Linked DNA regions of Homo sapiens: region 1 is linked to region 2. Evidence: fine-mapped expression QTL. A gene starts in region 2. The other region holds a variant in brackets. All regions are shown on one strand. Distances are between the middles of the regions. Region 1 overlaps PAMR1 (peptidase domain containing associated with muscle regeneration 1). Region 2 holds the start of SLC1A2 (solute carrier family 1 member 2).

Evidence for each region. PIP is the estimated chance that this variant, and not a neighbour inherited with it, causes the effect.
Region 1: its variant is the best candidate, but not a certain one, in a credible set for the expression of SLC1A2 in nasal epithelium (TOPMed, PIP 0.79).

The regions. Positions count from the first base shown.
Region 1 is chr11:35,495,826-35,498,738 of GRCh38, reverse strand. All of the region lies in intron 1 of PAMR1 (peptidase domain containing associated with muscle regeneration 1), which reads left to right. Among named protein-coding and RNA genes, the nearest start is that of PAMR1, 28 kb to the left of the region's middle. The variant C/T (reference allele first, on the strand shown) is at 1,292.
Region 2 is chr11:35,418,135-35,421,031 of GRCh38, reverse strand. It overlaps SLC1A2 (solute carrier family 1 member 2), which reads left to right and starts at 1,474. Exons shown (of 11, transcript NM_004171.4): 1 at 1,474-2,082. The coding sequence starts at 2,066. SLC1A2-AS2 (SLC1A2 antisense RNA 2) reads right to left here and starts at 1,975. Exons shown (of 2, transcript NR_186310.1): 1 at 1,925-1,975; 2 at 30-496. RefSeq lists an enhancer at 1,328-1,828.

The DNA.
Region 1 (2,913 bases), 78 kb before region 2:
TTTGAGAAATGGAGAGAAGGTGGGAAACAGTGGCCAGGAAAAGGTGGACGGAGTCGGGTGAGCATAGGCCTCAAAGGCCTTGTGGGCTGGGGCAGAGAATTTGAGGGTTACTGCAAAAGCGATGGGAAGCAAGGTGACCATTTTAAGCAAGAAATTGATCTGACATACGTAAAAAACCATATCCTTGAGAAATATGAGCATTCTCTATTGTTTTTCTTTTTTTCTTTCTAAGCTATTAGTTTCTGAATGTTTAGTACATACTGGGTGCTGTGCTAAGCTGTTTATATGCATTATTTTGTCTAGTATTTTCAACAGGCCTAAATTGGAGAAAATGTACACTCATTTTACTGGATACTAAACTGAGACTGAGAGAGTAACGTAGCTTTGCCAAGGCAAGTAGCAGAGGGAGATTCCAAATGCAGGTCTGTTGACTCCCATGTTTGAGCCTCTAACCAATTTGTTCTCTCTCACTCTCCCTCCTCGACTTTTCACAATTAAAAAATTGTGGTAATATATATGTAGATAACATAAAATGTGCCCTTTTCTGGTATCACAAATACCAAAATTTGAATAATTTGAATAATGGGCTATACCACATGGATTTACAAAACTACAGCATATTATTAATAACACACATTCCACTAGGAAAACTTGGCACAGGTAGGAGCATGTGATGTAAACAAGAACTTGCACAGGATTCATAGTCTTTGCTACTTTCAAGTAAGCTTGGTTTTTGTCCTGTGCATATGGCCTGTGTTTATTTCCATCCTGTGGCCTTTGGGTATGCTATCCTTTCTAACTGGATGGCTTCCCTTCATTCTCTCAGCCTTTGAAAATATGATTTTTTTCTATGTTAAAAAGAAGCTATATATATAAAAAAAGAAAGCTGTATTGAGTTATAATTTTTAGATATTTTACTTGCAATGAGAAAGAAGAGAAGTTGAATGTTATAATGTAGTACAGTAATAAATATCAGTACAGTGACATGTTATAGTTGATCAATCACTATTTATTGAAAATTCAGAGTGGTCAACATGGTCTTAGGGTTTATGGACACACAAAAACATTTTACCTATAGGAAGATATAAATGTACAATGAAGGGAGAGCTAAGGGGTAATTAAAGCCCAGTGCAGATAATCAGAGGAGGAGTGGAAGGATAGAGAAGGCTAAGAAAATGTGCCATTTTAGCCATTTTAAGTGTATAATTCTGTGGCGTTAATTAGATTCCTGTGATTGTGCAACCATCACCTGTATCTAGTTCACCACCCCAAACAGAAACTCTGTAACCAT[C/T]AAGCAACACCTCTCCATTCAGCTTTCCCCCAGCTCCTGGTAACCTTTAATCTACTTTCTGTCTCTATGAATTTGCCTATTGTAGATATTGCATTTAAGTAGAATCAGACAATATTTGTCCTTTTGTGTTTGGCTTCTTTTGCTTGGCATGATTTCAAGGTTCATTTACATTGTAGCACCTAGCAGCTCCTCATTTCTTTTCATGGCTGAATAATATTCCATTGTATGCACGTACCTCATTTTTTATTTTTTATATTATTTGTTATTATTACTATTATTTTCAGACAAGAGTCTTGGTCTGTTTCCCAGGCTGGTGTCCAATGACACAATCTTGGCTCACTGCAACCTCTGCCCCTGGGTTCAAGCGATTCTCGTGCCTCAGCCTCCTAAGTAGCTGGGATTACAGGTGTGCACCACTGCTCCCGCCTAATTTTTTGTATCTTTAGTTGAGATGAGGTTTCACCATGTTGGCTAGGCTGGTCTCAAACTCCTGGCCTCAAGTGATCTGCCTGCCTCAGCCTCCCAAAGTGTTGGGATTACAGGTGTGAGCCACTGCGTTCAGCCCATGTACCTCATTTTGTTTATCCATTTGTCTCTTGATGGAAAATTGAGTTGTTTCCACCTTTTGGCTATTGTGAATGAACATTGGCATACAAGTATCTCTGAGTCTCTGTTTTCAATTTTTTAGATCTATACCTAGAAGTGTAATTGCTGGGCAATTCTGTTTAGCTTTAAGAGGAACTGCCAAACTGTTTTCCATAGGGGCTGCACCATTTCACATTTCTATCAGCAATATACAAGGGTTCCAATTTCTCTACTTCTCTGCCAACACTTGTTTTCCATTTTTCCCTTGGTTTGGATCATAGCCACCCTAGTAAGTGGTAGCTCATTGTGATTTTGATTTGCATTTCCCAAATGACTTGTGATGTTAAACATCTTTTTGTGTGCTTGTTGGCCGTTTATATAGCTTCTTTGGAGAAATGTCTATTCAAGTCATTTGCTCATTTAAAAAACTATGTTGTCTTTTTTATGGTTGAGTTGTATGAGTTTTAGAAATATGTCCTGGATATCAAGCCTTTATCAGAAATATTTTCTGATATTTTCTCCCATTTTGTGGGTGGTCTTTTCACTTATTTGATAATGTCCTTTGCTGCACAAACATTTTTAATTTTGATAAAGTCTAATTCATTTTTATTTTGTTGCTCCTGCTTTTGGTGTCATGTCTAAGAATCCATAGCCAAATCCAAGATCATGGATGGAGATTTACTCCTATGTTTCCTTCTGCTGTTCCTCACTTTTAACCATTAAATTCTCATCCAGATTTTAGAAGTCATTCACTTTGTCAGTAAAACATCAGAGACATGGGAAGCGCAGCTAAGTAAGTCATGGTGGTCACCCTGAAGGGGCTCAGACAGTAGTGGTGGAAAGAAATCTCAGTGGCGATTATGCTATGATGATGTAGCCATTCATTCCCAAACACCAATGTAAGGATCTTTTCTGGCCCACTAATTTGTGGAAAAATGATTTAAAAAGTCAAATTTTCATGAAACTAAATTTATTCCATTTAAATAACTGTCCCTCATTGTGCGAGTGTCTGCCTTCTATGATATTAGCATGTTCTT
Region 2 (2,897 bases):
GAGAGTAAAGGAAGGAGGTAAGCAGAGATTTATTTTTTAAATTTTATTAATGTGTTTTCCCCTCTTTTTCTTGTTATTTTTCTCATCTGTCTGTTCATACTTGGATATTTTGTCCAATAAACTATCTTCTAAGGACTCTGAAAATGCACTGAATATTTTTGGAGGGTTTACTGGGTGCCAGACGCCACTTTAGGAGTTTTACATATCCTCTCCATTTCATTTAGTTCTCTTAGCACAGAGAAGTGGGAGAAGATAGTCCCATTTTACAGGTGGGATGAAGAGAGAGATGGAGGAATTTGCCCCAGGTTACTCAGCTAGAAGGTGGTGAAGAACTCAAGCCTTCGGATATCAGCGCCTGGCATTTAACTACCAATCGGTCCTGCTGGGACTCCGGCTCCTCTGGCACCATCCCCGGGACCTACTCAGAGAGTTTGCACGTGGCCGGTCGCGTTCCATCGTCTAACAAGGTCCAGCACAGCGCAAATCCGAAGATCGTCTACCCCGGGGAAAAAGAGAGTCTGTTTAATTCTCCTGTGGCCCTCCAAGTGAGTTCTTTTGGGTTCCATTGCCTAGACGAGGAAAGTGAGGCTTTGCCTGCTCTGCGCTCACAGGGTCGGCAAGTAGTGGGACCCTAGGTTCCTGCAGTATTCCAGAGATAATCAAAGCTGCACAGGTCTCGTCATTTTTATGCAAAGGCGTCCGGAAGGCTCGAACTCTCCCTTGCACAAGCCCATCTGTCTCTGTGCGCCGCCCCCGGGACACGGAAGCAGGCGGCGAGCAGCGCCGAGTGGGTGGAGAACCGTCCCCCGCCACTCACCCCTCGGCCAACTCTCCGCGCCTTCTCAGCCGGCACCCACGAGGCCGACCTCTCTCGGCCTAAAAAAAAAAAAAAAAAATCCCGGCCTCCCCTGCACCCCGCCCGCCGCCCCCAGGGAGCTGCATTAATATTAATCTCGCTGAATAATTGAAGGCCAGAGATTTATTCGAGCTTCGGCGGGGGAGGGAGCGCAGCTGGGCCGCGTTTAGGCTGCACCACCCGCGTGTTTCAGCCGCTCGACTCCGCTGGACCTGGGACCCCCAGACGTGGGAGGATGGGGTGGGTGTGCCTGCCTGTGAGTTTGGGGGTGAGTGTGAGCTGAAGCGGGTGCTCCGGGGAGTGAGGAGGGAGCGCCAGGGGCTGCTCCAGGGAGGCGGAGACGGAGGGGCATCCCGGGTCTCCGCGCGGTCGCCTGCGCTTCACCCCGCACGGGGTGACCTGGGGCCACGCGGGCTTCAGGGGAAACAATAGCTACTCCTTAGATCCTGGGCTCCTGCCACCGGCTGCCCAAGCCTTCCCGGACGAGCGGCGGGGCCTCTTTTCTTATTTGGCTAATTTATGGCGAGAGGCTGGGGGGAGGGATGGCAGAGGAGGGACCGCGACTGGAGATGGGGGCGGGGGGCGGCGGTTAAAGGAGTTGCCCGAGGCGGCGGCGCGGGTGATGTCAGCTCTCGACGAAAATAGAGAGGGATCGCCTGCAAATCCCCAGCTCCGGCGGGGCTAAACCTTGCAATCCCTCCCTGGCCGGCGCCGAGCCAGAGCGCAGCGGCCTCCACCGCCTCCCCAGGCGCGCACACACCCGCACACGCGCACGCACGCTCACCGTCCTCTGCCACCACTCTCTGCTCCCGCCACTCGCCGCGCCCGCGAGCCCCGCAGCAAAGCACAGGTGGCAGCGGCTGCAGGGGCGCATCGCCGGCGTGCGCCCTCCTGCAGCCCTGGGCGCATCGCTCTCTCGGGGAAGCCACCCTCGGAGCCCCCGGAGCTCCCCGCCAAGCGCCATCCCCGCGGGCGGAGGGGAGCGCGGGTCGCGCGCCGTGGAGAGCCGGGACGCGGATTAGCGCCCGCAGGAGCCTCCTGCGCCCGTTGAGGCGCTAAAGGGCTTACCCCGGAGGCGGGTGGAAGGGCGGGCAGAGGCTCCTCTTAAATACCGCTCCCGGCCGCACTTCGCGCTCACCCCGGCGTCCGCTTTCTCCCTCGCCCACAGCTGCCGGATAGTGCTGAAGAGGAGGGGGCGTTCCCCAGACCATGGCATCTACGGAAGGGTGAGGGGATTTTTATCTGTACCCGCGGGAAAGCGGGGTCACGCGCGGGGTGGTGGCGCCCCTATCCGGGATGCGGATAGAGAGGCGGCGGCGGCGGGCCTCGGAGGTGGTGGCGGAGCCGTAGCTTGGCTGGGGATGGGATGGTGGGGAGGGGATTGATTTTCTTTCCTGGAGATTGCTGCTTAATCCTTTGAAAATGCGAGAGGTGGAGGGTTGTTTTATTTTGATAAAAAGGGTAAGGTGCGCTGGGGGCCTGAGAGTGTGAGGAAGAAATCCTCTTGAGGTTACTTTTGGGATTTCAAAACAATAGGGGATTGGGCATAGTGTGAGCAGACACCGGGGTAGCAGCGCCTGGAGCGCGGCGCCCCAGGCCCGAGGCGGGCTTGCAGGTGGTGCCGGCTCGGAAGGAATGAGCCAAGACAGGGCCCTGGGGCGGGGCAAGGACCAGCGCGCGCGGCCTTGAACGCCAGGTTTGCAGAGTCGCCATGGAGATGCTGGGCCCGCTCCGATCGGTCCTTGTCCCTGGAAGGCGGAATCTCCCTGGCTAGCTCTAAGGAAGGGTGGAAGAGATTTGGGTGCTTCCCGGGAGGCGGGAAAACGTGTGGTTTGGGACAAGGGCAGGAGTCGCCAGACTCCAGCGGGCAGGGATAGCATTGGCTTCCCTATTCAGCCCGAGGATCTGGAGTCGTGTCCTGCCTCCCAAGATTCCAGCTGGCATGGGGAAAGCTCCCTCGCAGTGATAACTAAAGACAATTGTCTTTAGCAAGAGACAGAAGGGGCTGCAGGGGGCAAAAGGATTCTTTGAATACTCACAC